Linked DNA regions of Homo sapiens. The protein of the gene in region 1 purifies or fractionates together with the protein of each later gene. This does not show direct contact. Each region holds a gene or a part of one and is shown on either strand. Other genes may lie near its edges.

Region 1 (5,364 bases):
ATAACCACTTCCAATTTCCATTAAAAATATATACAGTACTTCAGTTGTCTATTAAGTTCCTTAATTGAAGAAACTCTATCGAATTAAAGATACACTGATCTAGTCAAAATGTAAAATCTTCCAGAAATAGAAAAGCTCTAATCAGTACAACACAACACGAAATTAGTCCCAAACTAGCAAATGTGAATTTAAAGGAAGAAATAGTCCTCTGTCTTAGGGCTTTATTAAATCAGGTTATAGGAATTAATAAAAAGAGTAAATAAGATCATGAGTCCTTCCTCAAAATATAGGGGAAAGTTTCTCTCGTGAAGCTGAGTCCTAGACCATGTGTAGTTTCTATTAAATTGAAGCAAAAGAATCAGTCTCATTAGAGAAAAGAATAAAAAATTACCCACCACTTTTATTAAATCATTTGGTTTTCATCCAGCTGTATAATATGTGTGATGCAAATTAAAGACCCCACAATTTGATAAACCTAAACTGAGATAAAAGCTTTCTAGTCTTTTATAGGAAAGTTTAAAACATTTACAATTGTTAGTAAGCTGCAAAAAGTTTACTAGCATTTCCCATAATCACTGCTATTCTTGTGATGGTACATCATTGGTAATGACACTACTAAGATAAGAAGTTACAGTATTACAGCTTAGGAACATATTTCCAATTTTTATTAAAATTATTAAGTTCTTCCTAATATGTTTATGACACAGGGTCTGATGTTCCATCCAAATACATTTATAAAATTGTTTTCTTAAAGCACCTGGGGTAGTTACATGACTGGAGAAGATCTTTAAACATGTATAAAGCTGTATGTCTAATAGAATGAAAGGCACCAATTAATCCAATTACTTAGTGAAGACAGTTTCTCCTATACTATATGCACTACATACACCTCACAACCCTATTTGATAAAGGACTAGTATCTCCATTTAAACATGAAAACTGGGTTAGAGAAACACTATTACACATTAATTGGTAGAGTTGAATGTTTTAAATCTTATCTTTGTAATTTCAAAATCCATGCCCTATTTATTATGTCACACTGTCAACAGAGACAGATACATCCAAATGAGGTTTTAAAGGCCAGGTGTGGTGGCTCACACATGTAATCCCAACACTTTGGGAGGCTGAGGCAGGCAGATCACGAGGTCAAGAGATCGAGACCATCATGGCCAACACGGTGAAACCCTGTCACTACTAAAAATACAAAAATTAGCTGGGCGTGGTGGCATGCACCTGTAGTCCCAGCTACTTGGGAGGCTGAGGTAGGAGAATCACTTGAACCCAGGAGGTGGAGGCTGCAGTGAGCCAAGATCACACTACTGCACTCCAGCCTGGCCAAGTGGGACTTTGTCTCGAAAAAAAAAAAAGATAAAGAAAAAGATAAACAAAACAATTTAGGGGCCAGCATTTGCTTTGGACCTGCTCTAATACAAATGTTATTAGATCAACCCTTTTCACCAAAGTATTCCTACTTTCAAGATCAGTTTCCTAAATAGACCTCATAACTAATGAACAGAGGATTTCTTTTTTTTTTTTTTTTTTTTTTGGAGAGAGTCTTGCTCTGTGCAATGGTATAGTCTCAGCTCACTGCAACCTCCACCTCCCAGGCTCAAGCAATTCTCCTGCCTCAACCTCCTGAGTAGCTGGGACTACAGGCACAAGCCAACACGCCCGGCTAATTTTTGTATATCTAGTAGAGACGGGGATTCACCACGTTGGCCAGGCTGGTCTCGAACTCCTGACCTCAGGTGATCCACCTGCCTTGGCCTCCCAAAGTGCTGGGATTACAGGCATCAGCTACCATGCCCAGCCAAAAGGATTTTTAATTTGAGCTTCAGGATTTCATACCTTGAAATCATTTCAAATTTTTGTGTGCTTGCACGTACTGTGCATTTCCATGAGGAAGAATTCATTGGTTTTTATCAGTTAATCAAGGGAATCTATGACTCCAGAAATGTTTAAGAATCTGAGGAGAAAGGAAGAAATATAGTCTTTAGCTCTGTTAATAGGTGTGCAATTTTAACAACATTCTAAGTGAGCATTATTCTCTCACCTCCACAAGTTTGTGATGCACATGTTGTTTTCTCTGCCCTTCATTCCTTCTCTCCACACTTCTGCCTACCACTTCCACTGGGCTAATTCCTTCTCATCATTCAAGACTCAATTAATGTGTCCCTTATTCTAATCTAAGACACCTTCTTGAACTACGACCACTACCCCCAGGCTGTCAGGGAACCGTTCTCTGGCCTCAGAATTCTGTGTACAACTCTATGTTGCCTGAATGATAATTTTCTAGCTCTATTTCTCCTCCACTAGGATAGGAGCTCCTTGAAGGCAAGGACTTTTTATAATACATCTGTGAATTTCCAGAGTTTAGCACAATGCTTGATGCATAGAAGGTATTCAGTATAGTTTTGAATAAACAAGTAATTTTAAAAACAAATAAAAATCCTGTGAAACAGAGTGAGACCTTGCCTCTACAAAATATTAAAAAATTAGCTATGCGTGGTGGCATGTGCCTGTAGTTCCAGCCAGTTGGGAGGCTGAGATGAGACCATCACTTGAGCTGGGAAATCAAGGCTGCAGTGAGCCATGATCATTCTACAGTATTGCAGCCTGAATGACAGTGCAAGACCCTGTCTCAAAACATAAATAAATATACCCAAAGCAATTCTAAGCAAAAACAAACAAAAAAAACAAAGCCAGAGGCATCACATTACCTGACTTCAAACTATACTACAACACTACAGTAACTAAAACAGCATGGTACTAGTACAAAAACAGACACAAAGACCCATGGAACAGAACAGAGGAAGCAGAAATAAAGCTGCACATCTACAACTATCTGATCTTCAACAAAGTAGACAAAAACAAGCAATAGGGAAATGACTCCCTATTCAATAAACAGTGCTGGGATAACTGGCTAGTCACATGAAGAAGATTGAAACATATACAAAAATCAACTCAAGATGGATTAATGACTTAAATGTAAAAACTAAAACTGTAAAAACCCTAAAGAAAACTTGGGAAATACCATTTTGCACATAGGCCCTGGCAAAGATTTGATGATGGAGACATGAAAAGCAACTGCAACAAAAACAAAAATTGACAAGTGTGACCTAATTAAACTAAAGAGCTTCTGCACAGCAAAAGAAACTATCAACAGAGTAATCAGACAACCTACAGAATGGGAGAAAACTTTTGCAAACTATGCATTCAACTAAGGTCTAATATCCAGAATCTATAAGGAACTTAAACAAATTAACAGGCTGGGCGTGGTGGCTCATGCCTGTAATCGTATCACTTTGGGAGGCCAAGGTGGGCAGATCACCTAAGGTCAGGAGTTCCAGACCAGCCTGGCCAACATGGCAAAACCCACCTCTACTAAAAAACACAAAAATTAGCCAGGCATGGTGGTGTGTGCTTGTAATCCCAGCTACTCAGGAGGCTGAGGCAGGACAATCACTTGAACCCAGGAGGCAGAGATTGCAGTGAGCAAAGATTGTGCCACTGTACTCCATCTTAGGTGACAGAGTGTGACTTTGTCTCAAAAAATAATAAATAAAAATAATAAAAAGCGGGCAAAGGAGATGAACAGGCAGTTCTCAGAAGACATATATGTGGCCAACAAGCAATGCTCAGCACACACATACATGCGGCCAACAAGCATATGATAAATGCTCAACATCACTAATTATTGGAGAAATGCAAATCAAAACCACAGTGAAATACCATTTCACACCAGTCAGAATGGCTATTACTAAAAAGTCAAAAAGCAACAGATGCTGGAGAGGCTGCAGAGAAAGGGGAACACATACACATAGTTAATAGGAATATAAATTAGTTCAGCTGCTGTAGAAAGCACTTTGGAGATTTCTCAAAGAACTTAGAACTACCATTTGATCTAGCAATCCCACTACTGAGTATATACCCAAAGAAATCTAAATTGTTCTACCATAAAGACACATGCACACATACGTTCATCGCCACACTATTCACAATAGGAAAGACATGGAATCAACCCAAAGCCCATCAACAGTGGACAGGGAAAAGAAAATGTGATATATATATATATACATAAAATAAATCCCCGCTCTACAGAAGCCATCAGCAAATATTTCTTTACACAAGCAACCACATCTATAATTCTCATGATAGCTATCATTTCCAATAACCTGTCTTCTGGACAATGAACAATAATAAATACTATTAATCAATTTTCATCCTTAATAATAATAACGGCCCTAGTAATAAAACTAGGAATAGCCCCCTTTCACTTCTGAGTCCCAGAGAGGACCCAAGGAACTTCTCTAATATCTGGCATACTTCTCCTTACATGACAAAAACTAGCCCCTATCTCGATTATATTTCAAATTTTCCCATCAATAAACATGAACATCCGCCTATCTATCACAATCCTATCCATTATAGTGGGCAGTTGAGGAGGACTCAATCAAATACAACTGCGAAAATCCTAGCCTACTCCTCAATTATTATATACATATATACCACAGAATACTACACATAAAAAAGAAAGCCATATAAAGAAACAAGATCATGTCCTTTGCAGCAACATAGGTGGAGCTGGAGGCCATTATACTAAGGGAATTAACGCAGGAACAGAAAACCAAGTACCGCATGTTCTCACTTATAAGTGGAAGCTAAACACTAATTACACATGGAGACAAAGAAGGGAACAAAAGACACCAAGACCTGCTTTAGGGTAGAGAGGGGCAGGAGGGTGAGGGTTGAAAAACCACCTGTTGGATACTATGCTTATTAGCTGGGTGATGAAATAACCTGTACACCAAACCCCAGCAACATGCAATTTATCCATATAACAAACCTGTGTATGTACCCCATGAGCCTAAAATAAAAGTTGAAATGGAATAAAATAAAAATACAAACATACATAAATACATAAATAAAGTAACACAGCCCATAATAGTAATTTCTTCCACAAAGCCAAGACACAGAGATTCATCTATTACTCCTGAAAGAAAGACAAGCAAACTGTAATTATTGGCAGGTTGTTTTTGATGTCCCTTCCCCAAGAGATTTATTTCTATAATATTTTTCAAAATATTTATTTAGGAATTGACAATCTTATATAAAAGTTTTCAATCCTATATAAAATTTTAGAAGTCTTTTTGTGTTTCATTGCTTTGTTTTCCTTCAGATGACATGAAAGTACACTTTTTTCCAAGTCTGTTTAGAGACTCAAAAGTATACACCCAACAGTTCTTAAATACATATGACAAATAAAAACATCTTCCTTTGAAGTTTTAAAAAAGAGAAATTTGTTTTATGGATCCCATTAAATAAATGAGGAATATAAAAAGCAAAGATTAGCATATTCCAATA
Region 2 (5,364 bases), on another chromosome or scaffold:
ATCAAACAAGCCACAATGTTCCCTTAAGCCAAAGCCTAATTCAGAGCAACCCTAACTCTCTTCAGTTCTATGAAGGCTGAGAGAGGTGAGGAAGCTAGAGAAGAAAAGTTGGAAGGTAGCAGAGGTTGGTTCACAAGATTTAAAGAAAGAAGCCATCTCCATAACATAAAAGTGCAAGGGAAAGCAGCAAATGCTGATATAGAAGCTGTAGTAAACTACCTAGAAGATGTAGCTAACATCATTCATGAAAGTAGCTACACTAAGCAACAGACTTATTTTTTATTTATTTATTTATTTATTTTGAGATGGAGTCTCGCTCTGTCACCCAGGCTGGAGTGCAATGTGCAATCTCAGCTCACTGCCACCTCCGCCTCCCGGGTTCAAGCCATTCTCCTGCCTCAGCCTCCCAAGTAACTGGGATTACAGGCTCCCACCACCAAGCCAGGCTAATTTTTGGTATTTTTAGTCGAGATGGGGTTTCACTATGTTGGCCAGGCTGGTCTTAAACTCCTGAACTCGTGATCTGCCCATCTCGGCCTCCCAAAGTGCTGAGATTACAGGCATGAGCCACCGAGCCCGGCCAGCAACAGATTTTTAATGGAGATGAAATGGCCTCCTTTTGGAAGAAGATGCCATTTAGGACTTTCATAGCTATAGAGAAGTCAATGCCTGGCTTCAAAGATTCAAAGGACAGGCTGACTCTCTTGTTAGAGGCTAAAGCAGCTGGTGACTTCAAGTTGAAGCCAATAATCATTTACCATCCTGAAAATTCTAGGGCCATTAAGAATTATGCTAAATCTCCTCTGCCTGTTTTCTATAAATAATAAAGCCTAGATGACAGCACATCTGTTTACAGCATGGTTTATTTTAAGCCCACCATTGAGATCTACTGCTTAGAAAAAAAAAGATTCCTTCAAAATATTATTGCTCATTGACAACACACCTGATCACCCAAGAGCTGTGATGGAGATGTACAAGGAGATTAATGTTGTTTTCATGCCTGCTAACACAACATCCATTCTGCAGCCCACTGATCAAGGAGTAACTTTGACTTTTAAGTCTTATTTAAGAAATATATTTCATAAGGCTATAGCTACCATAGATAGTGATTCCTCTGATGGATCTAGGCAAAGTAAATTGAAAACCTTCTGGAAAGGATTCATCATTCTAGATGCCATTAAGAACATTCGTGATTCATGGGAGATCAAAGTATCAACATGAATAGGAGTTTGAAAGATGATTCCAGCCCTCACAGATGACTTTGAGGGATTTCAGACTTCAACGGAGGAAATAACTGCAGATATGGTGGAAACAGTAAGAGAACTAGAATTAGAAGGGGAGTCTGAAGATGTGACTCAATTCCTGCAATCTCATAAGAAAACTTTAACTAATGAGAAGTTGTTTCTTATGGACGGGAAAAGAACGTGGTTTCTTGAGATGGAATCTACTCCTGGTGAAGATGCTATGAACACTGTCAAAATGACAACAAAGGATTTAAAATATGACAGAAGCTTAATTGATAAAGCAGGGTTTGAGAGGACTGACTCCAATTTTGAAAGAAGTCATACTGTGGGTAAAATGCTATCAAATAGCATCATGTGCTATAGAGACATCTTTTATGAAAGGGAGAGTCAACTAATGCAGCAAACTTCATTATTATCTTATGAAATTGCGATAGCCACCCCAACCTTCAGTAACTACTACCCTGATTGGTCAGCACCCATCAACATTGTGGCAAGACCCTCTACCAGCAAAAAGATTATGACTTGCTGAAAGCTGAGATGATCGTTAGCATTTTTTAGCAATAAATATTTTTAATTAAGGTATGTATGTTTTTTAGACAATTCTATTACACATTTTATAGACTACAGTATAGTATAAACACAGCTTTTTTTTTTTTTTTTTTTTTTTAAGAAATGGGGTCTCATGCTGTCATCCAGGCTGGAGTGCGGTGGTGCAATCATGACTCACTGCAGCCTCAAACTCCTGAGCTCAAGTGATCCAAGTAGCTGGGACTACAGGCCTGTCACATCACACCCGGCCAAAACGCATAACTTTTATATGCAATGGGAAACAAAAAAATGTGTGTGACTCACTCTATTGTGATATTCAGTTTACTGCAGTGATATGGAACTAAGCCCACAATATCCCTGCGGTATGGCTGTACAGTATAAGAATCACCTGAAGGGCTTATTAAAAACAGCTTGCTTGACCCCCTCCCTTAGAGATTCCGATTCAGTAGATCTGGGTTGGTCAAGAATTTGCATTTCTAACAAGCTCCCAGCTGAGGCTGAGGCTGCCATTCAACATACTACCAAGTAGCACTGGCATAGAGAGATCCCTGGAATAAAATTTACCTACTTGTGTGTGTGTGTATGAATGTGTGTGTGTGTGTGTGCGTGTGCATGTGCGTGTGTGTGTATACAGTCTTGCTCTGTTGCCTGGGCTGGAGTGCAGTGGCGTGATCTCGGCTCACCATAACCTCCGCCTCCCAGCTTTCAAGCGATTCTCATGCCTTAGCCTCCTGAGTAGCTGGGATTATGGGGTGCGCCACAACGCCTGGCTAGTTTTTGAATTTTCAGTAGAGACTGGATTTCACCATGTTGGCTAGGCTGGTCTTGAACTCCTGGCCTCAAGGGATCCACCTGCCTCAGCCTCCCAAAGTGCTGGGATTACAGACATGAGCCACCATGCCCAGCCCTTACTTGTATATCACAATAGTGAGATGATTACTTTTCAACTTTCTTCTTTGTATTTTTTAGGTATTTAAATTTTTTTACAATGAATGTTCCATCTTTACCCAAACAATAAAATCTTTATTGTAAAGAAAGTTAGAAGCAAGAAACATTAACATTTTTTATAACTACAATTTGTATAAAAGCTTTCTCTGTGATCTTTAGTTTTTCTTTCTTCCTCTGAAAAGCTGAATAGTGTTTAATTAAACTCTCAAAAGTATCAAGTTTTTGTCTATAAAATGGCAAAACTGGCTATGATGAAATAAACTGATATTTGCTATTTCTAATAAAAGCATACAATATATTCTTTCTTACCAGATTCAAATAATATTTAACGCCAACATATTAGTCCAAGTCCTATCATCAGTCAGATTTATCAGAAAGGTATGAAAACCCATGCCTACTATAAGGACCAAAATAGCCTAATTCAATACTACTTTGAAAACATGGGGATGATGTTACTACGTAATTGTTTTAAGTACAATAACCACTGATCACATTTGAACTCTCAGGATACTTCAATATTTCTTTTGGACAACTATGACCTGTTTAGTAAATTACCCCCAAATACTTTAATATAGTTTTACAAATCGCCCCAATGCCAGAGACCCAGATCAAAAAGAAAATAATGGTATGGGTCAGATTCACAGAATAAGCACTAACTTTTATGCAAACTGAAAATAAAGATTTTATCTAAAAGTTATTTGGGGAAAATAAGCAGACTTTATCAAGAATTAGAGCTTGGTAAGAAGGTAACAGAAACCCATTGTGAGAAACAGGTTGACTCTGTGTAGCTTTCCATAGTAGAGTTTAGAGTTTCTTGTCATGATTACCTTATCAATGCAGTATAATAACTACTTACACAGCACTTACATTGTATTAGGTATTATAAGTAATCTACAGATGATTTAAAGTATATGGGAGGATGTGCATAGGTTATAGGCAAATACTACACCATTTTATGTAAGGGACTTGAACATTAATAGATTTTGGTATCCTCAGAGGTTCTGGAACTAATACGCCATGGATGCCAAGGGACAACTGTACTTAGAAGTAGAACGTCTCTGCTCTTCCTACATGTCCTTATTTTTAACAACTTCTGTTCTTACAAATAATCCTAAATCAATCAATAAAACTTCCAATTCTATTAACAGCTTAAAAGCACCAAGAAATACTCTGATCATTCATTCAACTGCCAAAGAAAATGACAAACGAGTACTTTTCCTCTTTTAAACCAAAAAAAGTTTTTGGTTTAATACTAACAAAAGCTTTAATACTCATTTTAGATATTCCTCTAATACATCTATTTACAATATATCACAGAACTATATTCTGGTTATTAATAATCTCACTTCTTACCAGGGTCTGCTAATCCAGTGGTCTCTAACAGTATGTCATCAAATTTCCCCTTCTTTTGCATCAAATTCTCAATAGCTCTAAGGCCATTGTCCCTGGAGAATACCAAAACATAATTTACAGTTAATTACCTAAATATTTTGAAGTGATTATTATAAACACTTTAAAATGTATTCAACAACCCGAGACAAAAGTATCCTTAGGAATGTGAAAATTTAACTCACTTCTAACCTTCTAACAAAATGTCTGTCCCATATTTACCAGTGAGAAAACAATAGATGCATATATATAATAGGTAAAAAGAAATCATATACATAATAATACTTTATTAAAATTAAAAGCAGAGGAAACTTTATCTGACCAAGTATCTTTTTATAGCTTTATGAAATTTTTAAAAACCAACATACAAAATAATGATAAAATTTATTAACTATAGTAGTTTAATATAATAGCTAAAGGGACACTGATATTAAACACCATATAATTCTATTTTACATTAGGATGCAAGGTTTTAAATTCCTTTTTTCTTATTTTATCAAAAGTGAAGGAAAATCCTTAATAGATTACATTTTGGTTGTTCAAGAAAGTCTGTTATAATTTTATCCTTGCCAAAACATTTGACACAAAGTCAAATACCTAAGGGAGTAAATGATGCCGAAGAGATTTAATTCACTAGAATACACAAAATTAACAATACAAGTAGTCATTTTTATAATTCATTCAACAAATATTTGAGTGCTACTATGTGTTGGGTAACTCTTCTAGGGTCTATGGTAGACTAGTGATCACTGTCCTTGGAAACTTAACTACTAGAACATAATGTAAGGTTTTTCTTTTTTGATAGTCATTTATTTTTTATAAGGTTGAACACTTAGAAGTATGACCAATGACAGATTAAATTCAGAATAATCATTTTTTACATATGAGACTTTCATGCACTAGAGATTAAATAAGCCCTGACATCAAAAGCAATAAAAACTCAATAAAAGGACCAAAACATTAGAGCAGATAGAAAAGACAGCAAGAAACACTTTAAGAAAATGCTTCCTAATAAGTTTATTTTCTATTTGTTTGAAAATACAATGAAGCAAACTGTGTAAATTCAGTTAAATTACTCAAGAAAATTAAAGCTGGAAATATAATCAATAAACATTTCTAGTAAACCATGTACACAGTAAACACATTCCTCACTTCACTGAACAGCAGAGGCAACCGTTTCTAAGTTCCAGCCACTCTTCATAGAGCTCTCCACCTTGGCTGACAGCTAAGGATT

What was found. Proteins that work in one complex are often made in the same cells at the same time.
Region 2: the proteins of AGBL4 (region 1) and ZNG1C purify together in Homo sapiens (affinity purification with mass spectrometry; one large-scale study listed by BioGRID and IntAct). This does not show direct contact.

Annotation. Positions count from the first base shown.
Region 1 is NC_000001.11:50,013,013-50,018,376, forward strand, and holds part of AGBL4 (cytosolic carboxypeptidase 6), read right to left. Parts: intron 1-5,364. UniProt on the Homo sapiens protein: Metallocarboxypeptidase that mediates protein deglutamylation of tubulin and non-tubulin target proteins.
Region 2 is NC_000009.12:68,247,628-68,252,991, reverse strand, and holds part of ZNG1C (zinc-regulated GTPase metalloprotein activator 1C), read right to left. Parts: coding exon 5,283-5,364; intron 4,187-5,282; coding exon 4,095-4,186; intron 1-4,094.